Regions from separate parts of the Homo sapiens genome. Here region 2 is linked to region 1. The links come from fine-mapping of genetic effects on gene expression. A gene starts in region 1. The other region holds a variant in brackets. All regions are shown on one strand. Distances are between the middles of the regions.

Region 1 (11,247 bases):
CTGGGTCAGCTGACACCGTGCCCATGAAAGAGCAGCCACCTGTGCTGTTATTAACCAGAGGCTGTTTCAGCTGGGCCAGTGTGTCACCTCAGCATGCCTTTCCTTCTTCTACCAAGACTTCCTTGACCACACGTCAGCCCGTGTGGACCAAGGCCTACTAAAGCCAGACTAAGGGCCTACCCTACAAGTATGACAATATGATAGAGAGAAGAGACTTTTGACCTAAAACTCCAATAGGTTTTGTTTCAATATAACTGCCTTTCCCCACTCCAAAGCTGTGAGTAAACCCTCAGGGTTAGTGAGAAAACCAAATATGAAATTCCCTTTGGGTAACGTTAACAGATACCCCAGGGGCCTGCCCCATGTAACAGGTGGGTTTTCCTCAGAGGGTCTCAGAGCACACCGGAAGAACAGGCAGTTATCCTAGACAGGCTTGGAGCCCAGCTCAGAGACTCTTCTGGAGTCAGTATCTCAATGTCTTTCTCTCCTCCCTTCCTAGACGTCGGTACAGCAGGGAAGGCAACAAGCACCTGCTCCCATGAGGGGATTGCTAAAGAAAACCCCTGAAGGTTATGTATGTAGGATTTTATTCGAGAGAGAAATGGCATGCAACGCAGGACCCTAACTTGAAATTCAAGCCAGTGGTGCAGTCCACGATGCCCTGGCTAGACACAGAACACCTCCTACCTTCCAGCTGTGCTCTGGCCTGTTGATTTTGGTAAACACTGCTTGGCGGTGCCCTCTAGTCATCAGGGAAGTAGGCAGCTGTAATAGGATCCCATGGAACTGACTTTGCTCAAGGTCACTGGTGAGTCACCAGGCTAGATTTGTTTTGAAGGTCCTGCCTCTTCCTGTCTATCTGCCCATTGCTCTAACCACTCCTGACCCAAACAGTCTGCAGGCAGAAAGGCTTAAAAGGACTTCTGTCCCACCCCGCCTCCCTTCTTGCTGGAGTCCCTCTGAATTAGAGACACTTCCCCAATGCCCCAATCCCTCTTTATGCATCTGTGCAACCTGCTCAGCGTCTCCTCACTGTGACCTTTTTAGCTTCCAGACAGGCCTGCGACACAGGCCTCTTAACAGAGCCCTCTAGTGCCCAGCCAGGTTATCCCACAGACACCAACAGGCCCCGCAGGGCCTGGCAGTGTCAGCTGCCCCAGTCACCACCTATCAGGCACACAGGCTCTCCCTGGAAGGCCCTTGATCTTCCAGTGGCTGCTGTCAATTGTGATTCACCTGACTTCTACTCCCCAACTTCCTCATTCTCCAAAGATGCTTCCTGGGGCTGTTGCCAGTGCCCTTTGGTGGCCACACTTGAGAGGCAGAAAGGCTCAGAAGAAATGACTATCTGCGGCCCCTCTTTCTGGGGTCTAGAGGTGTGAGTCTATCTCCACCCAGGGCCAGGTTGAGAGCTGTGTGAGAAGCAGGCACCGCTTGCAGGGGCAGTGGAGAAAACCCAGGATGAGGTCTTTTTTTTTTTTTTTTAAAGGAAGGGTCTCACTCTGTCACCCAGGCTGGAGTGCAGAGGCACGACGATAGTTCACTGCAGCCTTGAACTCCTGGACTCAAGTGATCCTGCTGGCCTCCTGCTTCAGCCTCCCAAAGTGCTGAGATTACAGGAGTGAACCACCACACCCAGCCCAGGATGGGTTCTTTGGAGCCAGCTTTCATTGGCTAAAGCCTCTGAAGCTTTGTGAATGACAATGGGAGAGTGGCTTTGCCCTGGGATCACCAACTAAAGCCTCAACACTGAGGCGATGAAGTTATGACAAAAAGCACAGCTTTGGCTGGGCTTATGATAAAACTCAACTAGAATAGGAAAGTGATAAGCCTCAGGCAGCTTTGATGGGAAATAAACTCGGAGCTCACTAAGGTGTTGCAGTAAGAGTATGGACTTTGGAGTCAATGTCCACTCAGATTAGCTGAGCAAACTACCTAGCTTCCCTGAGCTGGGACCTTTTGAAGTGGGGCTGAAACAGTACCTACCAAATAAAGATGCTGTTTAGGAGGAAAAAAGCAGGCATGGGGTGTGCTTAGCATAATGTCAAAATGTGGCACTCAGGCAGGGGCTGAGAAATGGTAAGGCTGCTCCAGGGCCTGCTGGCTGCCCAACTCCCATCACCGGCAGAGACCTGGCAGGGTCTGTTCTCCCTCTGGAAGTATCTACATGTGGCCAGGAGCGGTGGCTCATGCCTGTAATCTCAGCACTTTAGGAAGCCAAGGTGGGTGGATCACCTGAGGTCAGGAGTTTGAGATCAGCCTGGTCAACAAGGTGAAACCTCATCTCTACGAAAAGTACAAAAATTAGCTGGGCATGGTGGAGCACCTGTAATTCCAACTACTCGTGAGGCTGAGACAGGAGAATTGCTTGAACCCGGGAGGCGGAGGTTGCAGTGAGCTGAGATGGCGCCGCTGCACTCCAGCCTGGGTGACAGAGCAAGAGTCTGTCTCATTTAAAAAAAAAAAAAAAAAAACTCTATATGCACCACATCTGTGCTTGACAGCTCTGCTCCCTCTTGAGATGTGGAATACTCCAGGCTCTCAGGTCAGGATATCTGTTAGGCCCTGAGGATCAGCACAGTCACACAGGATACTACATGTCTGAAGGCCCACTGGGTACCAAAAAACCAGTAGGTACAAAGAAAAGGGAGAGAAGATGCAATCAAGGACTTCCGGATTCCTTACTGATTCTTCTGTGATAGCTCATGAGGCACCACTGCCAACTCTCCTATTAATGGGCACAAACTGCTCTTAGGAGATGGCCACAGGCAAGCAAGTAGAAACTATACACAGGTTAAGGTCTCTAAATATGTGAGCAAATGTAATGTAAAGGTTAAGAAAACATGCTTTGCAAAAGACAAAACGGAGCCTGAATAATTTCTTTCTTTTTAATTTTTGAGATGGAGTCTCACTCTGTAGCCCAGGCTGGAGTGCAGTAGTGTGATCTGGGCTCACTGCAACCTCACCTCCCAGGTTCAAGCGATTCTCCTGCCTCAGCCTCCTGGGTAGTTGAGGCACCAGCCACTAGGCCTGGCTAATTTTTGTATTTTTAGTTGAGATGGGGTTTCACCATGTTGGCCAGGCTGATCTTGAACTCCTGACCTCAGGTGATCCATCCGCCTTGGCCTCCCAAAGTACTGGGATTACAGGTGTGAGCCTCCATGCCTGGCCTGGCCCGAATAATTTCTTAGAAAGGGTAAATACACATGTGAACAAAGAAGAACCTGCACCAAGAATTTACTTTTTTTTTTTTTTTTGAGATGGAGTCTTGCTCTGCTCTGTTGCCCAGGCTGGAGTGCAGTGGTGTGATCTTGGGCTCACTGCAACTCCTCTACTTCCTGGGTTCAAGCGATTCGCCTGCCTCAGCCTTCAGAGTATCTGGGACTACAGGCGTGTGCCACCACACCCAGCTAATTTTTGTATTTTTAGTAGAGACAGGGTTTCTTTCACCATGTTAGCCAAGCTGGTCTCCAACTCTTGACCTCAGGCAATCCACCCGCCTCGGCCTCCCAAAGTGCTGGGATCAGAAGTGTGAGCCAGTTCCTGGCCTTTCTTTTTTTTTTTTTTTTTTTGAGATGGAGTTTCGCTCTTGTTGCCCAGGCTGGAGCGCAATGGCGCGATCTCAGCTCACTGCAACCTCGGCCTCCCAAGTTCAAGCGATTCTCCTGCTTCAGCCTCCCAAGTAGCTGGAATTACAGATGCCTGCCACCACGCCCGGCTCAAAAATTTACTTTTATTTTTAACATGCCTTCGACAAGGATGCACACCAAAGTGAAATAATTATGAGATTGCTCCTTATGACAGCTGAAGTAAAACAAAGGATAAAAACTATAAATGACACGGCATCATTTTATATTGGCATCAACAGAGGTGGGGTAGTCCCAGCTCTGCCACCCTAAACTGGGTAGCCTTGGGGAGATCCTTCATTTTTCTGAGCCACAGCTAAGCACACCCCATGCAGTGCTAGATTTCGGAGATCTAGCTTTCTAGATCTGATGGGTCTAGTGGTGGGAAGGTGGTATGTGTGCTTCAAAGAAAGCAAGTACAGGGCAATGTGCTAAAAGAAAAACCACCAAGACTCACTCAAGCTTAATGCTCTTTGTGCCATTAGCAACATGACAGAGAAAAGGCTGCATATAAGGCCTCTGTCGTGTGCATAACTTTGGCTTTAATGAGCCAACCCAGCAAAGAGTACCATTAAGGTGAAATCTGGAAACAACCAGTTGTCCCCAACCTTCTACAAAATCACCCTACAGCTTCTAAAACTCAAGAGAGATGCAAAACAGTAAGAGAACACTCAGAGAAAGGCAACATTTGGCCACAAGGATGAGGCTTTTCAGCCTAGACCTGCAGAAGCAGAGTATGGTCCGATGCACAGCGGGGAACTTGGACCTTTTCACCAAATCCCAGTGCCTGAATTCTTCAGGAGGTAACACGCAGATATCTAACAGGAAGTGCTTCTGATAGGCGGTGCAGTAAACATCTGGAATGCATCACAGCCAGGGAATAGCACAGACAGGATAGCACAGAGAGGATATAAGACCTTCAAGATGGCTCAAAAGACCTTGGGGTTGATGAACTATGCTGTTACTAAGGACTGTTTGGGGTACATTGATCATTGTTAGGGTAAAAAGCAGGTGATACAGTCCAGTCCTGTCCTCACACTTCACAATTTTTACTGGAGACAAGAATGGGCAGGATAAACTATGGGGCCCATAGGACCCTCCCATCGTCTGCTGTCTATCTGGCCGGAAAGCATGATGATGAACAAAGCAACCTTGCCTCTGTCAGGCACACCTATAATGGTTCCAAGAGCCACATTCCGACTGTTGTACTGCGGGTGGCAATGGAACGGTCTTCCGATTACCTAAAATGCCACAGATTCCCTTCTTCTCTAATACGCATCCGATTACCATAGAACTCTAAGATATCTTTTAAAACCTAGTCATATTAAAAGTTCCTTTTTCTCCATTAATCAGTCTGCCCCAAAGAAGCTTTTCCGTATTTCACAGGATCCTTAGAAGAGGCCAGCTAACTGTGATACCTAGCACCCTTATCTTTTCTCGATACACAGCGTCCTTCCTCCAGCAGAATCCTAAAATAGCAGCAGTCCGGATTAACATGGCTGTGAGGAGTAGGTGCTTAGCTGAATAACATCAGAATTAATGAGGGGCCGGACCCCAAACAGAGCCACCTGGTGGGCATGAACACCAGGCAGTTATGGGGCCGTTTCCTTCAACCAAGTGTCTGGTCCCTGGCTATCTCTGCTTCAGCCAGAACACATTCTGTCCCCCACCGAGGCTTTAAGGGCCAGCGCGCAGCACCCTCACCTTTCAGCAGGTCCGGGTGCACATAGCCCAACACGTCGGAGACCCCCAGCTCCTGGCGCGAACAGGTGCCTCCGTGGATGTGCAACCAGGCGGGCTCGGCGAGGGCAGTGCACAGCGCCGTGATAGACAGGGCGCCAGGCAGGGCCGAGGCCAGGCTACGCTCCGGCTGCTTGGGCAGAGCGCTGCCTCCCGGGCTCCTCCGCCGGCGCCCGCCGGGCAGCCCTGCGCCTCCGGGGGCGTACATGCCCGGGGCCGCCCGCCGTCGCTCCGCAGTCGCTGCTGGTCGCCGCCGACCTCCGCGGGGCGCGCAGAGCCTGACAGTCCGGTGGAGGATAGCAACGCTCCGGGTTCGCTGCAGGTGAAGCCGGGACTGGGCTGTCAGGGTTGACACCAGAGGATAGGGGGGTGGGACCCGGGGCTGACGGAGACGGGGAGGGCTGCGGGAATTCGGGGGGCGGAGACAGGAGACTCCGGAATGGGACTGCGGGACGACAACCGAAGAGGGCCAGGGGCCAGATGGGGTCTGGGCAGACTCGAGTGGGGGGCGGAGGGATCGGGGATCGGCTACTGCTAGAGCAAAGACCCGGAGTCAGGGTCTCAGCCAGAGGATGCCGAGGGGCGGAGGACCGGGCTGGGCCGCGGGGATCGGGGACCCGTGATCTGGGACCGGCGGTTTGGGGTGCGACCTGTGCGCAGAAAAGACCCTCCCCACGCCGCCCACTGTTCCTCACCAGTCAGCAGGCCCCAGGGCTGGGATGGTGCTGCTCAGCCCAGTCACGGGCTTCTCGGCTGCCGGGGGCCGAGCGTTCCCAGGCCCCAATCCCGCAACGCCCGGACAGACCCGGGGCCGATGCACTTCCGGCTTCCTCCTCCTCTGCCTCCGCCTCCTCCGGCTCCCCGCCCCGTCCCCCGCGCGCGTCACAGCCTGGGCGCGCCGCCGGCTCTGCGCAGGGCCTCACGGGACTGGTAGTTCGAGGCGGTCCCGCGATGCTTTCCCTGCCGAGGTGAGGGGAGCGACTACAACTCCCAGAGGGTATGGCGGCCGCAGCAGTGGGCAGTTGAGTTTCCGGGGCGACCCAGGTCCTCCGGCGGAAGCGGGAGCCTCTGTCGGCCGCGGAAGCCTGGAGTGGGCGGTACGCAGACGCGCGCGGTGAGACCCGCTGTCTGCTCAGCGGACTCTGCCCGCCCCCACCTCCCCCTGCGTCGGGCCGACATGAAGGACTCGCTGGTGCTGCTGGGCCGTGTCCCGGCGCACCCGGACTCCCGCTGCTGGTTCCTGGCCTGGAACCCCGCGGGGACCCTGCTGGCCTCGTGCGGCGGCGACCGGAGAATCCGCATCTGGGGCACGGAGGGTAAGGCCCAGCCTGGTTGCGCGGCCCTCAGCGCTGAGGGCTCAGCCTGCGCGTAGTGCAGGCGCTCAGCCTGCAGGGGAGGCTGAACCTGTTCCTGGCGGAGGGAGAGTGGGATGTTAGCCACGCCGAGAAGGGCTTTACAGGCAAAGAAGTCTGCGACTGTTGGGAGGAAAAACGTCAGCAGACAAGCTGAAATGTCAAGGGAATTGTGTTAGCTGCAGAGGCAGGAAAATGGGAAAAGAGAGGTGTTAGGAAAGTGGCCTTCAGAGTAACTTGCGACTGGATGGTCACATTTTATCCCGAGGGCATTGGGGAACCAATAGCAATTTTAGATCAGATTTGTTTTAGAAAGATGCCTCCAGAGGTTGGGCGCGGTGGCTCACGCCTGTAATCCTAGCAGTTTGGGAAGCAGAGGCGGGTAGATCACCTGAGGTCAAGAGGTCAAGACCAGCCTGGCCAACATGGTGAAACCCCGTCTCTACTAAAACTACAAAATTAGCTGGGCGTTGTGGCGGGCACCTGTAATCCCAGCTACTCGGGAGGCTGAGGCAGGAGAATCCCTTGAACCCAGGAGGCGAAGATTGCAGTGAGCCGAGATTGTGCCATTGCACCCCAGCCTGGGCATCAGAGCAAAAACTCCGTCTCAAAAAAAAAAAAAAAAAAAAAAAAAAGCTTCCAGACGAAGTAGATTCATTTGCATCTTTGTAAAAGCTGTGAAATACACTCCCTGAGCTTTCCCCCACTAGCTTGATTCCAGTGCTAGCCCCTGATATTGAATGGCTTCATGGTGCTGCACCCAGCTCCAGAGCCTGGCCTGCGCTCCGCCTTTAGGTGACAGCTGGATCTGCAAGTCTGTCCTTTCTGAAGGCCACCAGCGCACCGTGCGGAAGGTAGCCTGGTCCCCCTGCGGTAATTACCTGGCCTCTGCCAGCTTTGATGCTACCACTTGCATTTGGAAGAAGAACCAGGATGACTTTGAGGTACCCAGGCTGGTTGGGACCAGAATTATTGCCTGTTTCCTCCCCAGGGCTGGTTCAGGAACCTGAGCCAACCTGCGCCAGTTGGGCTGTACCCATGGGAAGGGGCTTAGGGGTGTTAGCTGCTGTTAATTCTCATTTTCTTTCCCCTTTCACAGTGTGTAACCACTCTCGAGGGCCATGAAAATGAGGTCAAGTCAGTGGCTTGGGCCCCATCTGGCAACCTCCTGGCCACTTGCAGCCGAGATAAGAGCGTTTGGGTCTGGGAAGGTGAGGCCAGGTCCCTCCAGGTGGATTGGGAACCACCTGACAGCCCCCTCTGTGTCCCTGACAGGGTCGGCTCTTGGGTCCCCTTTTTCTCTCCCACAGTTGATGAAGAGGATGAGTATGAATGTGTCAGTGTTCTCAACTCCCACACACAGGATGTCAAGCATGTGGTTTGGCACCCAAGTCAGGAGGTAAGAGTCAAGCAGGGACTCTTGTGGGAAGGGCTCTGGTGTGCAGGCTTGTGCCCAGCCTTCCTCTGCTTTTCAGCCTTAATCTAGCTTTTACGGAGAGTTCCATCTGTGAACAAAAAACATTAGTCCCTTTATAAAAACAGATCCGGCTGGGTGTGGTGGCTCACACCTATAATCTCAGCACTTTGGGAGGCCATGGTGGGTGGATCATCTGAGGTCAGGAGTTCGAGACCAGCCTGGCCAACATGGTGAAACTCCGTCTCTACTAAAAATACAAAATTAGCGGGCATGGTGGCACATGCCTGTAATCCCAGCTATTCGGGAGGCTGAGGCAGGAGAATCACTTGAACCCAGGAGACGGGGGTTACGGTGAGCCGAGATCGTGCTATTGCACTCCAGCCTGGGCAACAACAGCAAACTTCATCTCAAATAAATAATAAAATAAAATAAAAGCAGATACCTGGAACTGACCTGTCCTTTGCTTCCTGGGCCACACAGACACATGTTGGGTTTCCTTTCACTCTTCCCCCAGCTCTTAGCTTCTGCCAGCTATGATGACACAGTGAAGCTGTACCGGGAGGAAGAGGATGACTGGGTATGCTGTGCCACCCTTGAGGGCCATGAATCCACTGTGTGGAGCTTGGCCTTTGACCCGAGTGGCCAGCGCCTGGCGTCTTGTAGTGATGACCGTACTGTGCGTATCTGGCGTCAGTATCTACCAGGCAATGAACAAGGTGAGGTCCATTAGTAGAGCTAAAGAAGACCCATCTCTCAAGGGGTTCACAGTCTGCTAAGACACGTACATGAGTCAGAGCAAATGGGGGTAAAAGGTAAGATGTGCTACAAGAGGGCTCTGGATAGAGTGCTGGAAGAATCAGGAAAGTTTTGTAGAATGGGTTGTTTCATCTGAATTTAAAAGGGTATGTAGGATTTTAACATGAGAATTTCACGTGAGAATTCAAGTGAAAACTCAACAGTGTGAGTAAAGATAACAATGGCGGGAATGCTTAGACTGAGGGGTGGTAATGCATTTAAATGGGGCATAGGACGTCTGGGGTTTGGAGAGGAATAAAGTGGGTTGGGTCGGCTGGTGGGTGGCCTTCACAGGCACGCAAAGTAGTTACATACAGTCTGCAACAGAACAGGGATGTTTCCTCGGAATTCTGCTTGAGAAACGCCAGTCTGGCTATAGTGTGTAAGGCAGATAAGCAGGGATGGGGACACGAACGGAGACACAGACTCATAATCAGTTGAAGATGAGGGTGAGGGAAGGTAAGTTAGGTTCTCCTTTGAGGTGCCCAGGACATAGGAACGTTTAAGGGCAAGAGAAGTCTGTCTTGCAGGGGTGGCATGCAGCGGCTCTGACCCCAGTTGGAAATGTATCTGTACTTTGTCCGGCTTCCACTCAAGGACCATTTATGACATTGCTTGGTAAGACTCCATCCCCCCACCCCATCCCATCCCCATAAATCAGGGATTTTAGAGAAGGCATACCCTATGCAGTCCTCTGCAACCCTGGGGGAGTGCTTGGGAATTGAGGGCAGCCACCCCCATTCCTTATCAGGCCTGACTCTACCATGCTGGTTTACAGCTGGCTGGGCTGGCATTCACAGGAGCAGAGAACAGTCCCAGGCTGTGAGGGTAGCACCAGCGCTAGAGGTTCGCACAGCTCGTGCTGTCCAGAAGTTATTATTGAATCTGCATTCGTGGCTGAGGGTTTTTTTTTGTTTTTTTGTTTTTTGAGACAGAGTCTCACTCTGCAGCCCAGGCTGGAGTGCGGTGGCGTGATCTCATCTCACTGCAAGCTCCGTCTCCCGGGTTCACACCATTCTCCTGCCTCAGCCTCCCAAGTAGCTGGGATTACAGGCGCCCGCCACCATGCCTGGCTAATTTTTTATTTTTAGTAGAGACGGGGTTTCACCGCGTTAGCCAGGATGGTCTCGATCTCCTGACCTCATGATCCGCCCACCTTGGCCTCCCAAAGTGCTGGGATTACAGGCATGAGCCACCGCACCTGGCAGTGGCTGGGGTTTTTATAGGTAACACTGACTCTGGCCTTGTGGAAGCTGGAAAAGCTGCACCATTCATATAGGAGAGTAGGTTAGAGGGTAGTTCTGGCCCTGAGAATTGATCCCTAGGAAATCCAAAACAGTGAAAAAAACTGAGCACTTAAGCTTGCTTTATATTAGCAAACATTTGGGAATCACCTATTCAACAAAAGTGAACTTAAGTAAATTATGGTAGAACTCAGCTTGTTGTATCACTGTTTAAAGAAAGGGGTTAAGAATACTTTATGATGGGGCCAGGCGCTGTGGCTCACGCCTGTAATCCCAACACTTTGGGAGGCCAAGGTGAGTGAATCATGAGGTCAGGAGTTCAAGACCAGCCTGACCAACATGGTGAAACCCCGTCTCTACTAAAAATACAAAAATTAGCTGGGCGTGTTGGCACGCACCCAATCCCAGCTACTCAGAGGCTGAGGCAGGAGAATCGCTTGAACCCGGGAGGCGGAGGTTGCAGTGAGCCGAGATTGCGCCACTGCACTCCAGCCTGGTGATGGAGCAAGACTCCATCTAAAGAAAAAAAAAAAAAACTTTATGATGGCTGGGCCCAGTGGCTCATGGCCTGTAATCCCAGCACTTTGGGAGGCTGAGGCAGGTGGATCACTTGAGGTCTGGAGTTTGAGACCAGCCTGTCCAATGTGATAAAACCCTGTCTCTACTGAAAATACAAAAATTAGCCGGGCATGGTGGCACATGCCTGTAGTCCCAGCTACTCAGGAGGCTGAGGCAGGAGAATCGCTTGAACCTGGGAGGGGGAGGTTGCAGTCAGCCAAGATTGTGCCACTGCACTCCAGCCTGGGCGACACAGCAAGACTCCATCTCAAAAAAAAAAAAAAAAAAACAACTTTATGACATGGGAAACTGCTTATGCCAAGTGAGGAAAGTGCAGTTCATAATTGCATGTCGTTTTTTAGGATAATCATAGTAGGGGAAAGAACTAGATTGCAGCATCTGAAGATATAAGTGGGTGATATTTGTGACTCCTTATTAGTTAAGGAAACATTTTAATAAGAGGTTTTTAGCTGAGGCCTGAAGTTAGGGAAGAGAACAGGCCAGGAACTATGGAA
Region 2 (11,247 bases), 160 kb after region 1:
CTTTGCTTCAACCTTGGTTGTCTTGAGGTTGCTCTTCTCGAGGAGCATCTTAGTAGTCTTCTCTGTATTTTCTGAATTTGAATGTTGGTCTATCTTGCTAGGTTTGGGACCTTCTCCTGCATAATATCCTGAAGTGTGTTTTCCACCTTGGTTCCATTGTCCCCGTCACTTTCAGGGACCCCAATCAACTGTAGGTTTGGTCTTTTCACAATAGTTCCATATTTTTGGAGGCTTTGTTCATTCTTTTTCAATCTTTTTTCTCTAATCTCATCTTCATGCCTTATTTCAGTAAGTTGATATTCAACCTCTGATATCCTTTCTTCCACTTGATCTATTTGGCTATTGATAGTTATGTATGCTTCATGAAGTTCTCTTGCTATGTTTTTCAGCTCCATCAGGTCACTTATATTCTTTTCTAAACTGGTTATTCTAATTAGCAGTTTCTGTAACCTTTTGTCAAGGTTCTTAGCTTCATTGCATTGAGTTACAACATGCTCCTTTAGCTCAGAGGAGTTTGTTATTACCCACAGTCTACCTCTGTCAATTTGTCAAACTCATTCTCTGTCCAGTTTTGTGTTCTTGCTGGAGAGGACTTGCAATCATTTGAAGGAGAAGGGGCATTCTGGTTTCTGGAATTTTCAGCATTTTTGCACTGGTTTTCCTCATATTTGTGGATTCATCTACCTTTGATATTTGTGGCTAATGACCTTTGGATGGGGTTTCTGTGTGGGGCTTCTTTTTGTTGATGTTGATGTTATTGCTTTCTTTTTGTTAGTTTTTCTTCTAACAGTCAGGTCCCTCTTCTGCAGGTCTGCTGCAGTTTGCTAGAGGTCCACTCCAAACCCTATTTGCCTGGGTATCACCAGCAGAGGCTGCAGAACAGCAAAGATTGCTGCCTGCTCCTTCCTCTGGAAGCTCTGTCCCAGAGGGGCACTGGCCTGATGCCATCTGGAACTCTCCTGTATGAGGTGTTCGTCAACCCCTGTTGGGAGGTCTCTCTCAGTCAGGAGGCACGGGGGTCAGGGACCCACTTAAGGAGGCAGTCTGTCCCTTAGCAGAGCTCAAGTGCTGTGCTGGTAGAACCCTTATTGTCAGGATCCACTGCTGTCTTCAGAGTCGGCAGGCAGGAACGTTTTATTCTGCTGAAGCTGTGCCCACAGCCATGCCTTCCCCCAGTGGCTCTGTCCCAATGAGATGGGAGTTTTATCTATAAGCCCCTGACTGGGGCTGCTGCCTTTCTTTCAGAGAGGCCCTGCCCAGTGAAGAAGAATCTAGAGAGGCGGTCTAGTGTGAGCACAGATTTCTATTCTTAAGACTGAGTATAAGCTAAAAGCTGAATTAGAGTCTCAAGATTCTCTCTCTGTAAGAAGCTGGGTTACAGTCAAGTTTGTTTTGTTTTGTTTTGTTTTTAGAGACCAGGTTCTTGCTCTATCACCTAGGCTGGAGTGAGCAATCATAGCTCACTGTGGCCCTGACTTCCTGGCCTCAAGTGATCCTCCCACTTCTGCCTCCTGAGTAGCTGGAACTACAGCTGTGTATTAGTCTGTTCTCATGTGGCTAATAAAGACATACCCGAGACTAAGTAATTTATAAAGGAAAGATTTTTAATGGACTCACAGTTCCACATGGCTGGGGAAGCCTCACAATCGTGGTGGAAGATGAAGGAAGAGCAAAGAGACGTCTTACATGGCAGCAGGCAAGAAAGCTTGTGCAAGGGAACTCCCATTTATAAAACCATCAGATCTTGCGAGACTTATTCACTACCATGAGGACAGTATGGGGGAACCAGCCCTATGAGTCAGTTATCTCCACCTGGCCCTGTTCTTGACACTTGGGGATTATTACAGTTCAAGGTGAGATTTGGGTGGGGACAAGCCATATCAAGGTGCATGCCACCACACACACCTAACTTTATTTTATTTTTTAGAGATAGGATTGGCCCAGGCTGGTCTCAAACTCCTGGGCTTAAGCAATCCTCCTGCCTCAGCCTCTGGAAGTGCTAGGATTACAGACATGAGCCACAGTGCTAGGCCCAAGCATCTTTGATTGGAAGCTGCCTGCTGTACTGGAAGTCCCGCTCTTTGTTTGCAGTGGAGATGATTCATTCATTCTCTGACTCCTAGGCCTGGCTCTGGGCTGGTAAATTCTTCCTCACTTTGTTTCAAGTGGGGATCCCCTCCCCAAATCCTGGGCTGGAAGATTCTTCCCTGGCTCTTCATGAAGGCTCTCTGTTCTCTATTTGGCCCTGCTCCTCCCACGGGAATCTTTCAGTCCACTGAAACTTCCTTCTTGAACCCTGGCTAACTATATGCTCCACCAGCTCTGTCCATCTTCTTAGTGCATGAGCTGGCTGAGGATAATTTAGAACTTGATTGGTCTTTCTGGGAAACTTAAGACCTCCCCAAAACGGCCCCTCTAAGACCTCCGTCTTCCCATTATTTCCTCCTCCTTCCTCCTCCGACCACCTTTGATCTTCCCTTCAGCTCCCTTGAATCCTTTGATGTGTCCCCTTTAAACTCCTCCCCCTCCTGCCTCTGTCCACCCCCACCAGACATTTCTCTTTCCCAGCCCTTGGCTCCCTCAGCCATTTCAGTCCCCCTGCCCCAATCAGGGGCTCTCAGGGGACTCATGTTATCCCAAAAGCAACTTCCTGAAGCTGAAAAGAAAAAAGCTGATTGGAATTAGATTAAATTTTTATCCACTCACGTGGGCTGTGAGGACATTCAGGCAGCCCCCAGCATCTCCTTAGTAACATGCTTGAAATGTGATCCACAGGCTCCAAGGGATTACATAACAGGGCAGAAGGAAATCTTAAAAATCTCCCCCACAAACACATACACATACACAAAAGCAACACACAATTCAGATACAAATATCAAAGATAAGAGTGTATTAAAATTTTAGAATGGGCCTTGTGCAGTGGCTCATGCCTGTAATCCCAGCACTTTGGGAAGCCGAGGTGAGCAGATCACTTGAGGCCAGGAGTTTGAGACCAGCCTGACCAACAAACTGAGACCCAGTTTCTACTAAAAATACAAAAAGTAGCAAAGTGTGGTGGTGCATGGCTGTAATCCCAGCAATTCAGGAGGCTGAGGCATGAGAATCACTTGAGCCAAGATCAGGCCTGCACTCCAGCCTGGGCAACAGAGCGAGATTATCTCAAAAAAAAAAAAAAAAAAAGGAACGGAAAGCTGTAAGATCTCTATTTGCATTTGTCCATGTATGTATGTGATGTACATGTGATAGTTTTCTATCTCCACATGGTGTTGCCAAAATTAATTAATAAAAGAGCTCTGTCCAGTCTCTACCAAAAATACAAAAAAATTAGCCGGGTGTGGTGGCGGGCACCTGTATTCCCAGCTACTCAGGAGCCTGAGGCAGGAGAATCACTTGAACCTACGAGGCGGAGGTTGCAGTGAGCCGAGATCGTGCCATTGCACTCCAGCCTGGGTGACAGAGCAAGACTGTGTCAAAAAAATAAAAATAAAAATAAGTACTTATATAATTTAAATATTCCTAAAACTCTCAGAAATAAAGGAACTATATTGCTCTTCAAGTTTATATGACTTAGGTAAATCTTTGATATGTAAGATTAGTTTAATATTATTGGCTTAATAAAAACAGTTGTGTCTTCTGAGTTCCAGCATTAAATGTAATATGAGCATACATTTCTATTCAACTTGGGTTTACTAGTTAAATAAGCTAATATTTTATCTACTGGATGTTTAAGAATATGAAAATTGTTAATATAATATGAGAACAAATGTACGAGTAAAGATGCAGTAAAAGTGAATTGCTTGAAGTCCATTATTTCACTTATATCAAACACAATAGTAAAGCAAACACAATAGTAAAGCAAACACAATAATAAAGCAAACACAACAGTAAAGCAAACACAATAGTAAAGCAAAAGCTCTATGTATTTAATAATTTAGGTTTTTATTTTTATGATATTTGTTTAACATGCATGTGCTGTAAAAATAGTTAACAGAGGAAGAATTTGAGATGATGGCTAGCTTTCTTTCTTTTCTTTTCTTTCTTTCTTTTTTTTTTTTTTGGTAGGATCTTGCTCTGTTGCCCAGGCTGGAGTGCAATAGCATGATCACAGGCTACTGCAGGCTCAAACTCCTGGCCTCAGGCAATCCTGCTGCCTCAGCCTCCTAAAGTGCTGGGATTATAGGCATGAGCCACTACACTTGGTGCTAGCTTTGTTTAATACCTGAAAACAATTTTCAAAATCTTTTTGGTAACTTGCAACCTTGGAGTTATGCTAAGTTAAATTAAGTAACAGAAATCCATTAAATGTCTACATTGTTTCTAAGTACAATAAACTACCAAAACATTCATGGCTAAGTGTATTAGTCCATTTTCACACTGCTATAAAGAACTTCCCTGAGACTAGGTAATTTATAAAGGAAAGAAGTTTAATTGACTCAGAGTTCCACATGGCTGGGGAAGCTTCAAGAAACTTAAAATCACGGTGGAAAAGGAAGCAGGCACCTTCTTCACAAGGCGGCAGGAGGGAGAAGAGGGAAAGAGGAACTTCCAAACACTTATAAAACCATCAGATCTCATGATAACTCACTCAGTATCATGAGAACAGCATGGGGGAAATCACCCCCATGATCCTATCACCTCCCTCCCTCGACACGTGGGGATTACTATTTGAGATGAGATTTGGGTGGGGACACAGAGCCAAATCATATCATTAAGATTAAGTTTAAATTTATATACTTTGGAGTTTTTCTTTTTACATGGTATAGGTAGATAAAATACATTTGGATCTGTTAGTAAACATTCTTTTTGTCATATTGAAAAATTTTACTATAAAGAAACAGTATATGTCTCTAGAAATTGTCAGATAGTATATTCATAAAACACTTGTTAGTATTTGTATAGTATTTTGCTAATCTGCTATAGAATACTGGTATGTGATGACAGTTCACAATTGTATGCTTCCTAGTTTTCTCTGTAAAAGAAAGGTTACTAATAGTTAAAATTATAATTAATATATGTAATTAAAACTATTAAAAATAATAAAGCTGGAGGAAAACAACTGCATATGAAAAGTATGCAAGGAAAATCGGATGTGTATGTATGCAAAGAAAGTAAGATGAAGGTATGTTTTTTTGTTAAGAGAAAGAGGGTAATTTTATTTTAATGTATTAATAGAACATCTAGTTGTTCCAGAATGAGAAAGGAAAATGTGGGGCAGGAGGTGAGGGGACCTGAATGGATGTAGAAGCGTTGTGGAAAAGGAATCTTGGAAAAGGAATTTTATGTATGGTCAAGCTGGCTAAGATTTGAATGGATTTATTTATGTTTTTTTAAGCCCTAATATCAGAAGTACGTTGGTGCAAAACTAAAATTTGGTTTTTCTCTCTGTTAAAACAACAAAGTTTTCTTAGAAAGAGGTTGTAAAAGGTTTTTCTTCACCTTTTAAATAATCTGTCTAGGAAAGCAAGATTTTACATATTCTCAGAAGAATCTCCTGTGCTTTATGTTAATCTTTGTCATGTCCTTGATTATTTAAGAGTACCAACACTTGTCACTTTTAAAAGAGCTGAAGTTTTTTTTGTGTGTGTGTGTGACAATTTTGCCTTCCCAAAAATCAAATCCTAAATGAAATCTTGTTCTCAAACTGACTTTGAGATTTCCCAGAGGGCTTCTTGAAAATCTTCAAGGATTGGTTCTTTAATCTTGTAAAAAGAGAAAATATAAAAATAAATTGGTGTATTTGATATGTTTAATGCATGAAAAGATGTTGTCACATAAGAAGGGATGCTTATCCTTTCCTGTGTTATATTTAGGGACATGAATAAGCTGTGGGGTCCTAATAAGGGAAAAAGAATCAGGCTGGTGGGAGCAGGAGAAAGCAAAAAGAAAAGGCAGATAAGCCATGCGTCTGTCCTTCTTCATGGTCCAGGACACACAGTCCTCCTGTACAAATAACTCACAATCTGCCTGTGCCCAGCTATCACCAGACCCTTGCCTGACAGAAAAATGCAAGCTAGCTCACTGCAACCTTGGTATTATCAGTATTGCACGCAGCCCTCTCCATCACAAGCACCATCCTATTAAATCCCCAGCAGTCAGCTCCTCTCTTGCTGATCTGCCTGTTGCTTTCTTGCAATGTATTTTCCTATTTTCGCTAAAAAATTTGCCTTTCTGTACCGACAATTGTCTTGGTAAATTCTTTTACCACCCACACCACCAGCCCCAGCTAGTTGCTATCCATGACATTTGGGTGGCCCATATGAAGACTCTCTCTTCTTACAGGAAACCCTCTCCCCTCTCTCTTTCCCAACCCAGGGCCCTCGGTGGACAGCGTCTAAGCATGGAGACAACTGAAGGTCTCTGGCCGAAGTTACACTCTGGTGGGACTGAAAGGTGTCCATATGAAAGTGTCTAACTGCCACCACCCATCAGGTGAGGGACCTAAGTTTATTTTCTCTTTTCAGTCTTCCAGCAGCCGGCTGCTAGTATCCCTCTAGCAACTAACAGCAACCAGCTGGGGCTGCTACTCAGTGTTGCCTAAAGGCCAAAGGGTGAACAGGGTTGGCTGCCTTGCCTGTGATGGAGGAAAATTCCCTCTTCT[C/T]TCTTTTCTGGCCAAAGGTCCCTAATCCCTATGTATGACATGACTGGCAGCGGTAGCTCATTCAGAGTGACTTCACACACATTTTGGGTGACTCATATCCTCTCTTTCTCACTCTAAATTCTCCTGTGGAGTCACCCAGTCATCTTGCTCTGGATGTTGCTAAATCAGGTGATCCCAGACAGCCTCAGAATGGTACATCTTTCTTTACCCACCCCCTCTCCTGGACTGGCACCAAGCCAAGTTGTTCCTTTACCCTTTTTCCTCATACCTGGGTTAATCACCCAGCATAACAGCATACCTGGACTGGCCATCTGGCATAAGGCACCAGCATGAAGAGGTCTTTTCTAATGGGTGGGACACCCCTTTAGAAAGTGCACCTGAGGCCAGGCGAGGTGGCTCACACCTGTAATCTCAGCATTTTGGGAGGCCGAGGCAAGCAGATCACGATGTCAGGAGTTCAAGTCCAGTCTGACCAACATGGTGAAACCCCATCTCTACTAAAGATACAAAAAATTAGCTGAGCGCGGTGGCGTATGCCTGTAACTCTAGCTACTGGGGAGGCTGAGGCAGGAGAATCACTTGAACCCAGGAGGTAGAGGTTGCAGTGAGCTGAGATCCCCCCATTGCACTCCAGCCTGGGTGACAAGGCGAGACTCCATCTCAAAAAAAAAAAAGAAAGAAAAAAAGAAAATGCACCCAAGTCCCTAAGCAGACATGAGTGAAACCCTTTTCCTCAGTGGGATGCCCCAAGAGAATGTGTGGTTCATGTCCCCAGGAGATGTTAGCCCTGAGTGGCTCATTTTCCAGTCCTTCCGTCGGACCCATCTATTCCTTCAAACTCACTTCTAGGCTGCATTCCAAAGCACTGGGACAAATTCAACCCCCAAACCCTCAAAAAGGAAGGTCTAATTTTCTTGTGAAATAAAGCATGGCCCCTCTGCAGAAAATCCTCAAATTAGTCTCCTCAGTCTTTTGTAACCAAGAGCAGAATAAGGAGGACAGGGCTAAGGAGAAAGAAAAATACAGGGACAAAAGGCAAGCTCAACTGTTGGCTGCTGTACAAGCCCCAGCCCCTCCCCATAGCTCTAAGGAAACTTCTCCAGGTAGTTGCCAGGCCACTGGAAGGCAAACTACCCCAATGGGATAAATGGGAAAAAGCTCTACATGGCTCTGCCACAAGCTCAGCCACTGGAAATGAAGCTTCCTTGAGGGCTGAAGTGCCTCCAGGATGGAATTCCAACCCTTGGTGGCCTTGAACTGAAGGGGCTCTCTGCTCCAGCTGCTTCCAAATCAGACACCACCATCAACACAACAAAACCAAGGGCAACTCTGAAGGTGGCAAGTGAAATTATAAATTTCCCTTTTAAGTTCAAAAGCTACTTACTCTGTACTAATCTTCCCTGAACAACTCTCCTCCAAATTCTGTCAGGTAATGAGGGCAAGCAGCACCTGCTCCCTCCCCCAAAAAATTCACACCCCTTTATATTACTTAAGGAACCAACGACCTTTCTCCCAACAGTCCCTATAGTATCTAAATAACCCAAACTCCTTTGGGACAAAAATATACTTTCCAAAATGGGTGCCTGCTTAATATTTACCCAACTTCTGAATTCATCTTTCCCTCTAATAGCCCTATTTCTCCCAGGAATGCCAGCTAAATCTTTAACCAATAACCTTCACCTAGATAGTCTTACCTCCAGGGTTAAAAATAGCCCACACTTATTCAGACAAACCCTAGCAAGAAATCTAACCAAGCAATCTCTAAGGGGGACTAACTTCTACAGTGTGTAGATCACCTCCTCATTTGCTCCCCCTTCACAGAACTCACACAGCAATGTGCAGTACAAACCTTAACTTCTTAACTAAAGGAAAATAATTGTTGTCTAATCCAAAAGCTATTTAAAAGTTATAGTTGTTCTAACATTGGTTCCCTACATTGAAACAAAATTTTCTTAAGGTATTAATGATGGCAGCAGTGGGCCATCTGGAGTTGACACTGCCATCACACAAGCTGCAGCAGGGAGGCATGGCTGGGGCTTCATGCTCAATGAAGCCAGTAAAGTGGGGGACAAGCAGGAGCCCTACCCCTTCTGAGTTGAAGCAGGAGCTCCTTGGATGCAGCTGCAGCCACCCAAGACACAGTTCCAGTTCCAGACATCCCTGTGCTCCCACTCCATGGAGCAAGCAAGAGCCCTGACCCTGGGATACAGCTGCAGCTGCCCAAACTACACCTGTGGACCTAGGCATCCCTGCACTCTTGGGGGCCCAAGAAGGCCCCCACTGCCCTTGCAGGCTTGGAAGTGCCTGCTCCCACTGCCTGGCTTCTCCCTGCTGTCAGTGCCTGCTCCAATCTTGGAGCAAAGTTGGGGCTGAGCCTGGGCATTGTTGCAGCCTGGCTGGGTGTGCACACACTTGGGGCAGTGCTGACACACCAGGCCCCTGTTACCTCAGAACCCTCCAGATTTTGGGTGCGGATGAGCATGGAAGGGAAGCCAAGGCAGGACTGAGGCCAGCTCAGCAGCGCTGGCCTGCAGGCAGCCTTTGGTATGAACAGCCTGGGCACCATGAACCACAGCAGGAGGCAGACAGCCTCCTGGGCAGAAGGGGGCAAGTCCCAATGAAGCCCCACCTTCAGTCCAGGGAGGGCCTGAAGGCTGGAGGCCAGGCTGCCAGTCCCACGGACTGGAGTGGGAACTTACAGTGCCTTTTCCAGGCCTGCCCATGGCCACCCATGGACCAACTGCTGTGCACTTCCTCCCCTGCAGGCCCATAAAATCCCCAGGCTCAGCCAAACTTGGGCAGATATCAGTATGACCAGCTGCAGAGAGGAGCTACCCACTCCAGGGCCTCCTCTCTGCTGAGAGCTGGGGAGATGACGGGATGATCTGCCTGCAGAGAGGAGCAACCCACTCCAGGGCCTCCTCTCTGCTGAGAGCTGCAGAGACAATGGGATGACCTGCCTGCAGAGAGGAACTTCCTATTCCAGGGTCCCCTCTCTGCCAGGAGCTGAACACTAGTGGGGACAGCCTGGTTGCAGAAAGGAGCTGCCCCCTGCTCATGTGGGAGACTGAGTTGTTCTATCACTCAATAAAGCTCCTCTTTGTTTTGCTCACCCTCCACCTGTCTGTGTACCTCATTCTTCCTTGTCACAGGATAAGAACTTGGGACCTGTTGAATGGTGGGGCTAAAAGAGCATTAACACAAACAGGCCTGAGACATGTCCCTTGCTCACCACATCACGGGGAAAGAGAAGGAGAGAAGAGCTGTGGCCCTTTGAGGAGCCCAGACTTGGGAGCTCCCTGAGCCAGGGCTGTGACTCCCTCTTTGGGCCCCTATGGTTCTTGGTGTCTCCAAGCTTCTGGGTGCCACCATGTACCCTGATGCCCACCATGGAAGTTGCCTGCAGTACACCTGGTCCAGCTGTAGCCTCGCGGAGAGCTGGCCCCCATGCTGGCACCTGGAACTGTCCATCCTGTTGCAGTAGCTGGCATGTCTGACTGTGCGCAGTGGCTGGACCCCATTCTCACTCACACACCCCTTGCTGTTCCATGCCTGACTTGCCCTTGGCAGGCGTGGGACCCAGGCCAGTAACATGAGCCGAGTGCAGCCTGCCAGGCCGAGTGACTGGAACAAGCCCAACAGGCCCAAACAAAACTCAGGCAAAGGTGCCACCAGCCACAGAGGTTTCTGGCCAGAAAAAGCAACACCCCAAAGATCCCATAACATTAATCTACTCTTAATAAAATTGCAAGAAATTTTAGTTTTAATTTTATAAATTAAAAGTATAAATTTTATAAATGTCTTTTTAAAACTTCTCAAAATTATATTTCAGAAGTTCAACTTTTGCTATATCTTGCTGCTTTCAGCTTTTTCTCCTCTGAAGAAGTCTTAAGATAATAACTCCTTCAGTATTTGTCAGGTCCTGTAACTTTTTCTTTCAGTTCTCACTGTTATAATGGCCTAATGCTAAGAAGTTTCATCTTAAAGGTCAAAATTAAGCAATATTCTCCTCTAATATAACTTAATCTTGTACTCTTGGCTTTTCTTAATATGTCAAAATTTGCAATTTAATAAAAACTTTTTATGCTGTTTCTAAAATTCGTGTATTGCCCTGCTATATTCATAACCCTGAACACACTCTTCCTATGTCTATTTACATTCAAACACTTTTTCATAGAGTTTAACTTCCAGGTTATCCAAATGGGCTTCCAATAAGGAAAAACAGTCACACTGCAAGAGGTTTTTCTTTGCTTTTTCGTTAACTTGTCAAATAAACTCCCGTCATATCTTTAAAAGCTCACAGGTTCATAAAACTGCTAACTCAAGATCAAGCAGAACAATTAATTACTTGAGAATTACTAAATGAACTGATAGAGAGGATGAACATATCTTTGTTTGGAACATCACTAGGTTTTTAATGTTCCTTTTTTCCAGATATGAAGAACGCTTTATCCATTTTCTTCTAAGTTATCTGTAACTTACAACTATATAAGAGATTATACTGGCTGGGCATGGTAGCTCACACCTGTAATCCCAGCACTTTGGGAGGCTGAGGCAGGTGAATCCCTTGAGTCTAGGAGTTTGAGACCAGCCTAGGCAACATGGTAAAACCCTATCTCTACCAAAAAAAAAAAAAAAAAAAAAAATTA

Evidence for each region.
Region 2: its variant is fine-mapped to the expression of CIAO1 in whole blood (TOPMed, PIP above 0.99).

The regions. Positions count from the first base shown.
Region 1 is chr2:96,259,808-96,271,054 of GRCh38, forward strand. CIAO1 (cytosolic iron-sulfur assembly component 1) reads left to right here and starts at 6,418. Exons shown (of 7, transcript NM_004804.3): 1 at 6,418-6,682; 2 at 7,514-7,662; 3 at 7,818-7,929; 4 at 8,029-8,117; 5 at 8,650-8,851; 6 at 9,461-9,548. The coding sequence starts at 6,544. It overlaps TMEM127 (transmembrane protein 127), which reads right to left and starts at 6,190. Exons shown (of 4, transcript NM_017849.4): 1 at 6,062-6,190; 2 at 5,331-5,705. The coding sequence starts at 5,574. RefSeq lists enhancers at 1-1,545, 1-727, 6,310-6,499, 6,730-7,009, 7,607-8,806 and 2 more and silencers at 5,450-5,759, 5,810-6,019, 6,030-6,079.
Region 2 is chr2:96,421,385-96,432,631 of GRCh38, forward strand. No RefSeq gene overlaps it. Among named protein-coding and RNA genes, the nearest start is that of NEURL3, 78 kb to the right of the region's middle. RefSeq lists enhancers at 444-945, 6,072-7,271. The variant C/T (reference allele first, on the strand shown) is at 6,599.